Regions from separate parts of the Homo sapiens genome. Here region 1 is linked to region 2. The links come from fine-mapping of genetic effects on gene expression. Tissue or cell type: Th1/17 cells. Region 2 holds a variant in brackets; the other region holds the start of a gene. All regions are shown on one strand. Distances are from middle to middle.

The links. PIP is the estimated chance that this variant, and not a neighbour inherited with it, causes the effect.
Region 1: SAMD12 starts here. The variant in region 2 is fine-mapped to the expression of SAMD12 in Th1/17 cells (Schmiedel 2018, PIP 0.95).

The regions. Positions count from the first base shown.
Region 1 is chr8:118,618,097-118,626,096 of GRCh38, forward strand. SAMD12 (sterile alpha motif domain containing 12) reads right to left here and starts at 3,867. Exons shown (of 4, transcript NM_207506.3): 1 at 3,708-3,867. The coding sequence starts at 3,720. SAMD12-AS1 (SAMD12 antisense RNA 1) reads left to right here and starts at 2,905. Exons shown (of 5, transcript NR_038210.1): 1 at 2,905-3,090; 2 at 3,439-3,559. RefSeq lists enhancers at 2,860-2,909, 2,940-3,149, 3,760-3,959 and a silencer at 4,060-4,209.
Region 2 is chr8:118,006,343-118,014,342 of GRCh38, forward strand. The region is part of intron 1 of EXT1 (exostosin glycosyltransferase 1); the gene reads right to left. Among named protein-coding and RNA genes, the nearest start is that of SNORD168, 89 kb to the left of the region's middle. The variant G/A (reference allele first, on the strand shown) is at 3,541.

The sequences.
Region 1 (8,000 bases), 610 kb after region 2:
CGTACCCTGTTCTGTGGCGGGAAAGCATACCTGTAAGCTGCCCATAAATGCAAAGCATGGGTCACAAGCAGACTAGGAGACATAAATAGGATGTTGCAAATAAACTAAGAAGAAAACATAACACAGGGTAGTTACAAAACAATAAACAAAGGGCACCTCTTTTTCATCTTAAACACACGGCTGCAGGTTCAGCAAAGTGAATGAGTGAACTACTTGCTAGTAACACTTTTACAAATTCAAGTTTACTTAAGAAAAAGTTACACATAGTAAAAAACCTTCTAATTTGTTACTAATTAGAAAAACTGGCTGGCATGAATAAGTGAAAATTCAGGATATAAAACACATGCCAAATAGTATAGCTTTTCCTAAGAGAAGGGATGAGAGTACAAGTGATATTTACTTAGGATGCAGGTTCCAGACACCCTTCTAGAAGCCCTCTCCTTTATTTAATCCTCACAATGAGCAGGGCACGGTGGCTCACTCCTGTAATCCCAGCACTTTGGGAGGCCGAGGCGGGCGGATCACGAGGTTAGGAGATGGAGACCATCCTGGCTAACATGGTGAAACTCTGTCTCTACTAAAAGTACAAAAAAATCAGCCGGGCGTGGTAGCAGGCACCTGTAGCCCAGCTACTCGGGAGGCTGAGGCAGGAAAATGGCGTGAACCCGGGAGGCGGAGCTTGCAGTGAGCCGAGATCGCGCCACTGCATTCCAGCCTGGGCGACAGAGCAAGACTCCGTCTCAAAAAAAAAAAAAAAAATCCTCACAATGTTCCCAGGAGGAAAGCAGTAGTGAGCCCATTTTTTCCAGATGTGGAGACTAAAGCTTAGAATGTTAAGCAATTCGAACTGTATTTTCTATTCCAGTTCCTCTGGCAAAACTCCTTATTCTCTGAAGCAGCATTTCTCAATAAGTTGGGTAAACTGATCATTACTTGGCCATGGCTTGGCCTCGTTATACGGGATGGCCATGCGCTGCAGGACATTTATTATCTGTGGCCATGGGCACAAAATACCAACAGCAGCCCCCAGCAGCAGTTCCTACATATCCCAAATGTGTCCAGGGACAATGTCACCCAGCAGTAGAGGTAAACTGTTCTAAAAGATTTTTTGGGCATCAAGACAAAAGACTGAAGAGAAGGGCACTTCGAGGTGGGCAGATCACGAGGTCAGGAGATCGAGACCATCCTGGCTAACATGGTGAAACTCCGTCTCTACTAAAAATACCAAAAAAATTAGCCAGGCATGGTGGCGGGTGCCTATAGTCCCAGCTACTTGGGAGGCTGAGGCAGGAGAATGGCGTGAACCTGGGAGGCGGAGCTTGCAGTGAGCTGAGACCGCGCCACTGTACTCTAGCCTGGGCGACAGAGCAAGACTCTGTCTCAAAAAAAAAAAAAAAAAAATCTCCCATCCTCAAATCTGTCAGAAATCCCTTATTGTATCACATTTAGGCTTCCAAGAAAGCCCCATGTACCCTTATAGAACCAGTTACAAAACCTCCATGAATATATTTGCCATGCAATTCATGAGCATTGAGTACCTATTATGGGCAAAGTACTGTGCTATGAGCTAGGAATATAAAGTCCAAGTCTAACCCCCAAGGGGGTTAGAGTCTAGTAAGAGGCAGATTAAGTATGATAAGTATTAAGATAAATGTGAGCAGGAGGCACTTCCCATAGACTGGAAAGAGTGCTGAGAAGGCAGAAGAAAAAGGAGGGCTGGGACAGTTTCCCAGAGGAAGTGACATTTTCCCAAAGGCTTGAAAGACCAAGTAGGAGTAACCAGGAAGGGACTGGTCCAGGCTGATATCTTTGCAAAGACCAAAGATAGGAATCATATTTGAAGTTAAAGTTTAAAATACTTCCTTCATTCTTTGAGACCTCATTGTGATTCAAACTCAGGATCTCCTGTTTACTAGACAGGTACTTTAACCAAGTCACTAGAAAATAAACTCTCCATAGTCCACATGTACTTCCTTCCTAAGTTCTTGTTTTTGTAAAGTCTGGCTTCACTGGTGTAATCACCCATCACGCAAGAAATAAGACAAATTTATACTTCTTACAGGGAACAAGAAATTGTTTTCGAGAACAGTGTGGACTAGCAACAAAGAGGAGTGTCCCTGTCTTGGGGACACAGGAGTGGTGAAGACGAGAGATCATAATCAGTGTCACCTGATGGGTGACATAGAACGGACACTTAAGGAGTAGGTCAACATATCCTTGGTCTCAAGCTCAAGATGAACTTTATCTCGGCTTTTGTTTTGTTCTTTGGCATCTGAAGTCTTGACTATCAAGCATAACGATGCAAAAAAAAAAAAAAAAAAAAAAAAAAGATTCTCACCCTACTGGTACATTTGCACAGAAAAGAAAACCTAGAAAAATCTTGATTGTAAGAGAGAGAGAGGATTTCATTTTTGTTAATAAAGTTAGGAAAGCTGGAAGTGGCTGGCTGTGGATCTCTGAACCTGAGATAGCCCAAAGGCAAGAGTTTCCCGAGTTTATGGGTGCTGAGTATAGGAGCTGGGTTGTTGCTACTTCAGGTTGTTAAGACAGTCGTTATAAGGGGAGCAAGAGTCAGATTAGTTCAATTTCTTTCTCCTGGGGCAGGGAGGAGAGGGAGCAGCAAGCCAGCCTCGTGGCCTTCTCGTCTCTAGCCTACAAGGAATAGGCTGATTTCCCCTTGGCAAGGCGCCTGAAGCAGCTGGCAGGCAAGCCCTCCTCTTCCTACTTCAGTACGCCCTCTGACCTGACTGCACTCAGAAACCAAAATTCTGCAGGTGAATGTAGGCTCCCATTTCGTCCCACAATCATTTCATCATTCAGGCACAGCTTGACCTCTAATGTGACATCACAAACCCTTCCGGTCCACAGTTTTTTTTTCTTCTTCAGAAACTACCTAAACAAGGAAGTTTGTGTTCCAAGGTAAGATAACCTGAAATGAAAAACTCAGGATCCCTCACGAACAGCCTGACCCTGCTTTCAACCAGGAAGTTCAAGGGAGGCAGGACTTTACGGTCAAAACTGCAAAGCCGAAGCTCAAGACTGTAAGAAGAAAGTGATCTTCAAAGAAAAGGATTCACCCAAATCGAAGAGGTTGTTGCACTTCTTTTCCCTGGCTGATTACATTTCATGTCTGTAAACTTTGCTAAGCCCGGGGCGCTGGCTGTATAAGCAGAGACAGGTGTAGGGACACCTCTACCCTCTGGGTACATCTGCGGCCGCCGCTGCTGGGTGCATAGGACGAAGGGCCCTCGACCCAATCCCAGTCCAAGCTTCCGGATGACGCACCTGGGCTGGGGACCTCTCCCACGTGAGGGGGGCCAACCAAGCATCCCCAGCCCCGGGGCCACCCAGCCTGCTCCGGAGGGAGGGGGCAGGGAAAAAGGGCATCTCGGGGCCAAAACCTCATGCCGGATCCTCCGGCTTTCCCCCCATTTCCAGGATATCGTTTCGCATCAGGGACACTCGTCTCCACACCTCCTACCTCAAAGTCCTACGCACCTACCCTTCACGTCTCTCCAAAGCAACTGAATTAAAGCGCCTACTGGCCTTGGCGGCGCAGGTGAGTGCCAAGAGGTGGAGGAGGAAGGGGCCCGCTCTCCGCCACCCCCTTTCCTCGCCTCCCCACGATCGCCAAGCTTCATCGGGGATGTGTGCCTTGGGGTGCGCGGGTTAAGAGGGAGCTTAAAAATGCCCCAAGCGTCCCTTACCTTCCACAGCCATTCTCTCAGAGCTTCCCTAACGCATGCATAATTTTCTTGGCCGAGGTACTCCTCCTGCCCCGCGCTCCCCCCTTCCTCTCGCTTTCGCCTAAATATTCTGCGCTTATCTGCTCCAGGACCAACCTGCCGCGGTCACGCAAAGCGAGGCAGCCGGCTCCCGGCTCGGCGCGCGCAGGGCGTCCTGGGAAGTGTAGTTCCCTCCCTTCGCTCGGACTGGGGAGAGCACCCCGACTCCTCCGCGGAGTGCCGCCTGGCCCCGACACTTGGAGAGCAACTCCAGCTTCAGCTGGCCAGGCCGAGCAATCTCTCCTGGGGAAGTTGTGAGGGGACCAGGGATGCCTGGTTGTGGCGGGGCGGGGGGGGAGGGGGGGGGGGTTCCCGGGAAGCGGTCTGGACTACATCTCCCAGGAGGCCGTGCGCTGAGATAGGTTCGCTGCTAAGAGTAGGGACCCGTGATTGAGCCCTTCCCTGTCCATTACAAGGGGTTTGGCACCTAGCAGGTGTGGTGAGGTGGGCAGGTGACGGTCAGCTGTGTGATGAGCTCCTGCGAGCTCGTCCGTGGGCCTCTGCCGCCGGTACCGCCCCGCCCCCTGGCCTCCTGAACCACCATTTAGTAGGGAGAGCAGGACCACTGTCCTCCTGTGTGGTTCTCCACCTGGGCCAGAGAACGCTGCCCAGGGTGAGGTTGAAACTTGTTCCTTCGCACCCTGAGATGTATGGGTTTTGTGGGGGAATTCCGACGGTTGATACAGTTGTCTTATCCTACAGGGTGGTTCAGGTGGCTAAATACTTGGCATGGGGGTGTAGGGGAGGAGGAGTGGCTTAAACCCCAATAGGCAACGTCCCCAAGGGGTTGTTAGGAACAAAGTCTGGGAGCCAGGATTGCACCGGAGGAGGTCAGATGAAAGCCTGTCTGGCTTCCAGGATAGGAGGCTTTCAATTTGCCTAGACTTGGAGCCTGTTGACAGCCTGTGATAGGGCCTAATAATTAACAGTGCCTGAGAATCAGGTTCCTTCAACTTCTGAACCTATGTCCTAGCTGTAGGTGCTGGGGATGCTATAAGCAGACATGATAATGGGAATCACGTGGATAGCAATACAATTCGACAGCTCGTAAAAATTAAGTTTCTAAACATTTTTTCCTGCGTGTGAAAATACGGATACAGTTGTGGCTGGAAGGGGTAAGGGAATAGCCTCGGGAATAAATCTGGCTCAAGACTGGATTGACTTTTAAAGGCCTTCAGTTTACAAATGTATTTGGTACCACATCCACCCAGTCACTCATATATAATGTTAATCTCTGTAAAATGAGGAAGTACAAAAATCGGATTCTTCCCATGATGACTACTTAGACATTTTTGTGTGTCTTGGTCATCAGCAAAAAAAAAAAAATGTTTTTCAAAACAATTTCGTTTCTCAGTGTATACATGCACACCTGTTGTTCTGGTCACTAATTACATGCTTAGTTCCCCTACTGGGTAATATATAATAATAATATGTGTATAGGTACTTTAAAAAATACCTGCGTGTAACCATTAAATGCTCTTGTTGATACTTTAATTCTGAGTCCATGGAGCTGTGTACAAGTCAAACCTAAGCCTCTCTTTTAGGTACAGTAGAGAGAGACCCATTCAGTGAGACATAATTTCCATGGGAAAAAGAATTTTCCGACCTAATACACAGCCAAGCATTCTAAACTCTGGAAAGAACTGAAATCCAGGTGCTTCACTACTTTATGTATATAAAATCACCAAAGTGTTAAGTATTTTCTGAGATTGAATGAATGTGAAAGAAAGCCATAGGACAGGTAGTATCAATGGTTCTCAACCTTGGCTGTGCATCAGCCTTCTACAAATATATATTCCTAAGCTTTTATCTTAGTCTCACAGAATCAGAGCTTATGGGGGTTTGGGTAGAGGCACTCAGGTTTTAAAAACCCACAGGTGATTCCAGTCTTCATTGAGGGTGAAAACCATTGGTCTGGTTCCAAGCTTTTAAATATCTGGGTGATATAAAAATATAAAAGTCATTGAAATCTGTGGTTAATTTTAAAACTTCATCTTAGCTCATCTTTAATATTTTTCCCAGTGATGTGCATTCTAGACGAGTTTTATTTTTAGTATAAATAAAATGTGAAGGAGATGTTAGTTTCTACCATATGAAATAGCCAATGTTTGACCATTTTTAAAACCTACAAATAGAACAATTTCATGTGGTTCTGCCTAATAAGGGATAAACAATAGTTGCGCAGAGGTTTTCAATTCTGGCTGAACATTAGAATCACCTGGGAAGTACTAAAAAAAAATTACATTTATCTCTAGAATGTTTGAAAGATAAAGACACAAAATACCAACCGTTGGCAAGATTGTGAAGCAATAAAGATTTATATATTGCTGGTGGTGTGCAAATTCACAAAACCACTTTGGAAAACCATCTGAAATATTCAGCTGAATATATGCTTATCCTGTGACCCAGAAGTTCTACTCCTAGGTTTACACCAAACAAATATGCATACAGATGTTCTCCAAAAGACATGTGCAAGAATGTTTGTGGCTGCATTATTTTAATGTTCCCAAATGGAAAACAACTCAAATATTTATCAACACAGATTGGAGAGATGAACTGTGGTATAACCAAATAATTCCATATAGCAGGGGTCAACAAACTAAGACCAATGAGCCAAATATGGCTCACCATTTATTTCTTATAACTCACCAGCTAGGTGTGATTTTTACATTTTTAAATGGTTGGAAAAAAAACAAAAAAAGTATAATTTGCAAAGCCTGGAAATTATAAAGACATACTTACATAATATCCTCAATTTTGCCTCTTGTCCTACAAAGCCTCAAATATTTCCTACCTGATCCTTTGCAGAAAAAAAGCTTTCCAAACCCTCCTATAAAGTAATGCAAATGAAGGAATTACAATTGTATACAACAACATGATGAGCCACATGTATTAATCGATTGCTGTTAACAAATTATCCCAATATTTAGTGGTTTACAACAATACCCATGTATTACTTCAGTTTCTGTGGCTCAGTAATTTGGGCACAGCTTAGCTTCTGCTTTAGTATCTTTCACAGACTGCAATCATGACTTATTTTTGGTCTTTTTTATCAGCAGCCAAGTACAGTTCCTAACAGATATACCCAATTTTAGCAAGGGGCAAAGTCCAGACCTCATCCCATACCTCTCATAAGCCAAATTCTGTGTTCATTATGATGCTATTGTTTGTTCCTTATAGTATATAAGCACTTCGAGTGCTGGAACTGAGTCTTATGCTTCATATCTTCCAGATTCTTGGTCATAATTGTGGTTACATAGTAAGTACTCAATAGATAATTTATTACTACTATTTTTTTATCCTTGTTATAAGTAGCATTTGTTGGGAAATTACAAGTGCCAAGCTCTGTCTAAGCATCTTGACATACATCATCTCCTTTAATCACTACAATATTGTCAGATATCACTATTTTCCAGATGAGGAAATTGAAGCTCAGTGAATTTAAGTAATTTGCCCCATGTCTCCAAAACATGAATTGTAGCAAGGGGATTGAGGTCTACCTAAGTGTAGAACTCTGTGATGTTACTCCATCTAGATTTCAATACTGATTACGTGATCACAAATCTGAATTCATAAGCACTTGGCCAAATAGGAATTGTCATTACTAATAAAATGAAGGGTTTAAAATATTTTAATATCAGAAATTGTGATATTTAGAATGATTCAAAAATTTCTGAATATATCAGAGAGCACAGAAAGGGAAGGAAAAGCCCATTACCTTATAGTGAATTAAATAAAAAAAGAAATATTGAGATGAGGCTACAGATTTCACTGGATTCTAAGATTTAAAATAGTACATATAAGTACTTTACTGTATTTATTGTTCTAACTCGGTTGCTATATTCACAAGCCTCTACAGAAAACATTCATAAATCTCAAAAAGTAAATAGATTATGTTTCTATTCTGTTCAGGGAGATCTTCTAAACCTAACCAAAAGGATTCAAACCCTAAAAAGTAAAATTTTTGACAGGAGGAACTGAGAGGAAAAAAATAATTTTTTTGTAATTAAGATAAAAAATACTAACTCTAATCCTTGAGTCATGAATAAAGTGCCAACCATTCAAGTTATATCAGGCTTCCATTGGAGGAAGTAAGCATATTTCAGGGAACATGATTTAAGCAAAAGCCTAGTTGTTTTTGCTTAAATCACATTGTGCATAATTAAATCGCATTGTGTGTTATCTGTTTGTTGATAAGTTGGTGATATTCTATAC
Region 2 (8,000 bases):
TCAGAATTATATGGATCTCTGAGGTTTTTGAGTACCACTAAAGGAGTATAGTGTTTGAGTCAAAAAACCTGAGACCAAATATGAGCTCTGCCCTTTTAGAACGTAACTTTCCTTTTTCAGAGCTGAACCAAGTTTCAACTTACTCATCTGTGAAATGCCTATAATACTCTACCTATCTCTAGGAATGCCTTGAAGGTCAAAAATCGTAACAATAATGGGGGACAACTGTGGTTCAGTGGAAAGAATATTAGAATAAAGTTAGATGATCTGAGTTCAAGTTTCACATTATCCTAACCCACTTCAGTGAACAACTGAGGCTGATTCCATCTAAACTGTCTGAATCTCATTTTTATCATCTGAAAAAATATTCACATTTTTAAAGAGTTGCTTTAGGAAGAAAAGAGACTAGGACCCACTTCTTCTCAAGCCAAGCCAGTGTCATTTAGACTACAACAGGTTGTAAGAGTGGCCTGAGGCAAAAAAGAGAACACTCTCTCCATGAAAGAGGCATCCTCTACCTAGCTCTGGAGGACCGTGGCCATGTAGAAATGCAAGCGTAGGGCTGCCAAATCTTCCATTTTCCTACCTAAGCACTGAATCCACATTTCTATGTGAAATCCTTCAGTTGTTAGAGTTGGCAATTAATTCAATTTTTTAAAAGCATTTGATGGCTGGCCGGGCGCGGTGGCTCACGCCTGTAATCCCAGCACTTTGGGAGGCCGAGACAGGCGGATCACGAGGTCAGGAGATCGAGACCATCTTGGCTAACACGGTGAAACCCCGTTTCTACTAAAAATACAAAAAATTAGCTGGGCGTGTTGGCGGGCGCCTGTAGTCCCAGCTACTCGGGAGGCTGAGGCAGGAGAACGGCGTGAACCCAGGAGGCGGAGCTTGCAGTGAGCTGAGATCGCGCCACTGCACTCCAACCTGGGGGACACAGCGAGACACCATCTCAAAAAAAAAACAAAAAAAGCATTTGATGGCCCTAGAGAACATGCCTACAGACAGGTTACATAAGAATATCTGCATCCTTTCTAAGGTAACAAGGAACAGTTACCACCATCCTAAGCAACCTAAGGGGATCTTGAATATTTTTGATAACTTGGTGAAAACTAGAGGCCTCCTTTCAAGGAAAATGCATCAGAACAAACAGTTAGTGCATGTGGGGCTTCATACCTAGGTGATATATTGACAGGTGCAGCAAAACCACCACGGCACACATTTACCTAGGTAACAAACCTGCGTGTTCCACACATGCATCCAGGAACTTAAAGTAAAATTAAATTAAATACAAAAGACGAAGAAGATAGGTCTAACATGATTCTAGAGCTTCAAGCCCAGGTAACTACAAGACTGTAGTTTCATTCGCATCACCAGATGAGAGAAATCTTGTTTGGGAAGATAAGAAAGGAACAGGGAGATGACACAGAGCTGGAAGAGAGAAAGAAAAAAATGAATAAACTAAAGTGTAATATGCTTCAGTTGTGTAAGGGGTTTGACAGAGGACAATTTTGCCCTATAATTTCTAGAACATTACCCAAGGGACTAATGATAGTGAGTATCTATGGTGGAGAGGGGCAGTGCTGGCAGAGGAGGCACGCAGGTGGAAGGGAGACTGTTTTCACTATATTTTGATACTTGTTTTAAACCATGTGAATTACTGTCTAGTCATGACGACCAAAACAAATTAACTAATAATAAAAATCTGATGCTCTCCCTCCCTTCACCTCCCAACCCCCGACAGGCCCAGGGATGTGTGACGTTCCCCTCCCTGTGTCCATGTGTTCTCATTGCTCAGCTCCCACTTGTGAGTGAGAACATGCAGTGTTTGGTTTGCTCTTACTGTGTTAGTTTGCTGAAGATGATGGCCACACTGTCTTCCACAATGGTTGAGCTAATTTATGCATATTATACTTTTTTTTGTTTTTTTATTTGAGACAGAGTTTTGCTCTTGTTGCCCAGGCTGGAGTGCAGTGAGGTGATCTTAGCTCCCTGCAACCTCCACCTCCCTGGTTCAAGCGATTCTCCTGCCTCAGCCTTCCAAGTAGCTGGGATTATAGACGCCCACCACCATGCCTGGCTAACTTTTTGTATTTTTAGTAAAGACAGGGTTTCAGCAGGTTGGCCAGGCTGGTCTCGAACTAGGTGATCCACCCGCCTCAGCCTCCAAAAGTGCTGGGATTACAGGCCTGAGCTACCATGCCCAGCCTGCATTTTATATACAGACTTACTTGTTTTCACTTCATGTATTATGGAGGGATTTCCACGCTATTATATGAAGATATTCAATACCATTTTTCTGTGGCTGCACAGTATCCTATGGTATTGGCAATAAAGCATTATGTATTTAATTAGACACACATTGATTACATTGTTTCTAATCTTTTCTTATTAAAACCACAGCTGCAATTAAAAAAAAATACACCTTTGGTTACATTTTACTTTCTTCCTGCTTAAATTGCCTTATCTGAAAATGAAGATACTATCAGTCCCACCTCACAGAGTTTTTTAAAGAATGAAATACATGAAAAATATGTAAAATTCTTAGTTCCAGAAACCAGGTAAATCCTCAGCAAGTGTTAGATGTGATTGCTATTATGAAATGGGTCATCTCTTATCTACGCAAGTATATCTGTAGAATGCATTCCAAGCAGTAGAACTGCCAGGAGATTTAAAAGGAAACGGGAAAGTAGGTATTAATGTGGAGGTCCCAGAAAATTGGGGGAAACCAACATGGGAAATGAAGCAGCCATTGGCTTACCAGGGACAGAGGTTGAAGGTGTCCCAGAAGCCACATCGCAATAGGGACTTGAGAAGTCTGTGAGTCCTATCTGGTGAAAGGGTCCCCTGAGCTACACTGGGAATGTGAGCACGCCTCCCAGACTAACATTCTCCTCTGTTGTTCTAATCAACCAGCAATGTGTCTAGGAAAGGCCAAATTCTTGGCAGCCAAACTACATTTCCCAGATTACTTCAGTCCTGGAAGAAACAACAAAAACTATGCCAGGTCACATGTCTCCATTTTCAGGACTGGAAAATGAGGGCATAGATTTGTGGCTCTAATCCACAGAGGGAAAGTTGAGAAAAGGACGTGGAGAAAGGGTGAGTCAAAGCAAGTGAATGACCAGACAGTGGCCAACATTTCCAGACTCCAAAAGGGCAAGCAATATTTGCATATACCAACACTGGGTCTGCAGCAGGGGGCCCCAACCCTTGGGCAGCAGACCGACCCTAGTCCGTGGCCTGTTAGGAACCGGGCTGCAAAGCAGGAAGCGAGTGACAGGCAAGCGAGGATTACCACCTGAGCTCTGCCTCCTGTCAGATCACTGGTGGCATTAGAATCTCATAGGAGAGTGAACCCTATTGTGAACTGTGCACGTGAGGGATCTGGGTTGCACGCTCCTTATGAGAGTCTAACTACTGCCTGATGATCTCAGGTGGAACAGTTTCATCCTGAAACCATCCCCACACCACCCTCCTGGTCCGTGAAAAAATTGTCTTCCACGAAACCGGTTCCTGGTGCCAAAAAGGTTGGGAACC[G/A]CTAGTCTATACTCACCTGGACCAAATGCGTATTTAGTGCAAAACAAGGAGGTCTTCAACTGCTGAGGGAATTGGGTTCTAAGAAGTGGCTAAGAGCTAACAGGTAGGCTAAAGAGCTAATAAAACCAAATCCCTGAGCTCAGATAAAAAGTAAGAATAACCTTTGTCCATCAGTGTCTTCATTTGCCTATTGCAAGATGGATGTTAGGACTTAGAGTTGGCAGGATATAAGTATATTTTCACACTTTGGGAGGCAGAGGCGGGCGGATCACGAGGTCAGGAGCTCGAGACCATCCTGGCTAACACAGTGAAACCCCATCTCTACTAAAAATACAAAAAATTAGCCGGGCGTGGTGGCGGGCACCTGTAGTCCCAGCTACTCGGGAGGCTGAGGCAGGAGAATGGAGTGATCCCGGGAGACGGAGCTTGCAGTGAGCTGAGATTGCGCCACTGCACTCCAGCCTGAGCGACAGAGGGAGACTCCGTCTCAAAAAAAAAAAAAAAAAAAAGTATATTTTCAAATTTTTTGGCCTACTTTCACCCCCCACCTCTATTTCACCTCTACCCAAATCTCATCAAAACAAGCAAAAAAGAGCACTTTGACCACTCACTGGGAAGAATTCCAACTGCAACAGTTTACAAAGAAAACCAACATAAATTTCACTTGAATGTGTTACGCTGACCTCCCAAAATCCATCTCAGCTAATTAAAAGAAGCTGCAGAGCAGTTCCTATGGATATTAGCATTCAGGTCCTTTAGGAGCATGTTTACGTGGCACATCACCTTGCTGGGAGGCTCCCAGTACCCTGGGCTGAAGGCATCAATTCTCACTGGCAACGGCACGGCCGCAAGAGTGTGATCGCAGGCTCTGTGGAACCTCATGAAATGTTTAAGGACTCTCTTGGCTCACATCTCACTCTTCCTCACTCTACCCCATCTCAGGCTTCACCTTCTCCCCTTGCTAGAAGCCACTTCCGTGGCAGACGCTCTGGGTGCCAAGGTTTACAGTAACACCCCAATGGGACAGCAAGATTAATGAAAGCTTTCTGTGGGTAATTCAACTCTGTTCAGTAATATGACACTGAGAGGACAACAGGAGCTTGCAGGAAAGAAGAGGGGTAAGGAAATGGGAGAGCCATCAAGATGTGCACATGAAAACCTGTTTGCAATGTGGGAAGGACTCATCTGGTCAGCTATGGCTATTTGTCAGCATAGCATAGCAGCCACTTCACCATGAGAAAGTGTTATATGCAAACGACACCTCCTCAAAGAGGCCCTCACAGACTACCACAGCCAAATCCTCTCATATCTCTTTTCCCTGCCTGACATTAAAAGTGTACTCCCTCTGCTGCTTTGTCTGTTACCGACTTCCCGGTCCAGAATGGAAGCTACAAAGAGGCAGGACTCGTGTCTGTCTCATAATACTCCATTCCCCAGCCACTTAAAGTGAGCCTGGAACGTAGTAGGCACCCACTAACCTTATGAACACCAGTGAATGACTAGCTGGAATTCTGCAATAGCTTTTAATTTTAAAATGTGCCTACAAAATCCATCAAAATCCATTTTCCATTACCATATTAGGGTATGAAGAGGGGAAAAAGTATCGAGTAAATACTGGATCTGAGTCACCATGCCTGGCATTTTATACATAATAGTCACTTAATTTCTAGGACTCTCTGAGGTCGGCATGACTAATGCTATTTCAGATTAGGAAAACTGAGGTTCACAGATACAAACACAACTCACCCAAAGTCGCATATGTGGAAAGTGATCATTTCTGGTTTGTCTGATCCAAAATTCCCTGCATCTGTCACTCCCCACCCTGATCGCTCTCTGGCTCCTAAGGCTTTCATTTGGTTTTCCCAAGATCGGGCTCCCCTGTGACATGTCTCCATGACAAGCCGTTAGTATTCACTCAGAGACAAATTCCAAACGCATCTTTGATCTCACTACTTCAAGGAATCCCTTTAGTCACTTAGAAATGGAAACAGTCTGTTTTTATAAATGGCTCAGGAAGGGAGGACAGTCATCGCAGGCAGAGTCCTACAGAGAGCGCGAGAGAACATGGGAAGCAGCCGACCACTGGTGCAAGGAAGGGGCTCCCAGCAGCAGCAGCAGGAGGAGCCCCAGGGACCAACTTGGGAGAGGTTTGTTCTCAGATCCAGTGCTCCCTTTCTTCACACAGCAAGAACTACCACCACGGACGTGTCTCCTTTCTTTAAAGTGCTTTGTTATCATTTACTAATAAAGGAAAACTCACAGACCCAGGCCTTCAAAAGCTCTCGCCAAAAGTAGGGAACCCTCAATGAAGCGCAGGCCAGATGCCAGTTTTCGGTGCAAAGCGATCCTGTGATCATCAAGAATTTAGAAGCCTTGCTGAAAGTTTCCACTGCACACAGAAGACCACACAGGACAGAGTTTCTTCCACGGGGCTAAGGCCTAATTCCCGAAGAAGCCACTGCGGCTTCCTAGTTTGGCACAGGTGTCAAAAGCCACTTTTGGATTGACCCTTTTTGTCCGGGAAGGTGAAGCTTCCTAAGGCTAGATGGAACAAGCTGCTGGTGCAGTGTCTGCCTCCCCAAGCCAAAGAGCAGATTTCCACAAGGCCACCCGACAAGGCAGTCTCTAGGACAGAGACCAGGCCCAGATAAAAGGCTTTAGCCTTGGCAGCACAGTGCACTAAGAACAGGCCTCCAGGGTGGAGACACCTGGCTGAAATTCCAGCTCTGCGTCTCACTGCTGTTTGACCTGGGGCTGTGCACATCACATCTCTATCAGTTTCCACATCTTTAAAATGGGGCTGATAAAAATAACTACCTCTCAGGGCAGCCTGCAACAATGATGCATGTAAATTGCCTGGCACATAATGGACATTCAATCTAACATTAACCAAAACATTATTATTTTTCTCACAAAAAAGACCCCAGGAGGTTCTGTTGTTCCATTTTCTAACTCACCCTTATTGCTCTGACTGTAATCATACCCAAAATAAAAGCCTTTTCCTAAATTTGTTGTAGCAGAATGGTGGCCTGATTCTTTCTATCGTTAGTAAGGCAACTAACTGGCTCTCACTCCTTCGTCTCTAAAATTAAGCAAATGAAAACATGCATAATGTGGGTGAAGAAAAGGTGAACTACTTCTATGTGTTCACTGATGTTTTTTTTTTCTTTGAGACAGAATCTCTCTCTGTTGCCCAGGCTGGAGTACAGTGGCACAATCACAGCTCACTGCACCTCAACATCCCAGGCTCAGGCGATCCTCCCACCTCATCCTCTCTAGTAGCTGGGATTACAAGCATGGGCCACCACACCTGGCTACTTTGTTGTTGTTGTTGTTGCTGTTGTTGAGACAGAGTCTCACTCTGTCACCAGGCTGGAGTGCAGTGGCGCAATCTTAGCTCACTGCAATCTTCATTTTCTAGGTTTGAGCAATTCTCCTGCCTCAGCCTCCCAAGTAGCTGAGATTACAGGAGCCCGTCACTGCGCCCAACTAATTTTTGTATTTTTAGTAGAGACGGGGTTTTACCATGTTGGCCAGGCTGGTCTCAAACTCCTGACCTCAGATGATCCACCCGCCTCGGCCTCCCAAAGTGCTAGGATTACAGGCATGAGCCACTGGGCCCCTTAGTACAGGGGCTAGAGTAGGTAAGCCATTCACTCTCTTCCCCAAGAGGACAGCAGAGACCCAAGAATGAGACAGAACAGAATGTGGCACATAGAAAGGATGGATGGACTTGGAGTCAGAAGTCAGAAAGTACGATCATACAATCTGAAAACCCACTACCCACATACAGGGTTGCTTGATTTTAGCAAATGAAAATACAGGATACCTGGTTAACCTTGTATGTCAGATAAACAACGAATTTTCTAGTATACTATGGTCCACTATTTTTAAATGTAAGTATGTTCAAATATTTCATGGGATATACTTATACTAGTCATTATTTATATGACAATCAAATTTAACTGGGCCTCCTACATTTTACCTGGCAACTCTTGTCATGTAAAGATCTTAAATCTACCTTGATGCAGTAAAAAGAATATGGATTTTGGAGTTAAGTTGAACTGCGATTGAATCCTGGCTCACTACAAGCTCAATGTGTAATCCTAGCTAGTTATCTGAACTGCCTGAATCTTGCTTTACATATCTGTAAATGGCAGTGATAACACCTCACAGGGCTGTGCTATAGGTTAAATAAAGATAATGATGATGGCGATAATAATTACTAATATTGACAGTTTCATTTATTAAGTGCTCAACAAATGTTAGCCTTCTTTGCTCTTTGAGCCTCAAAGATTTCCCATCTACAAAATGGGGTTAAAGATATTGGTAATAAAATTCAAATATGTTTTCTGATAAGAATAAGGATACTTCAGCCTTCCTCCCATGGATTTCTGGGAAAAAATCTCAAGAATTTATTTTCTTTGGGTCTGCAAAATATCCCCTTTATCCCACCCAAA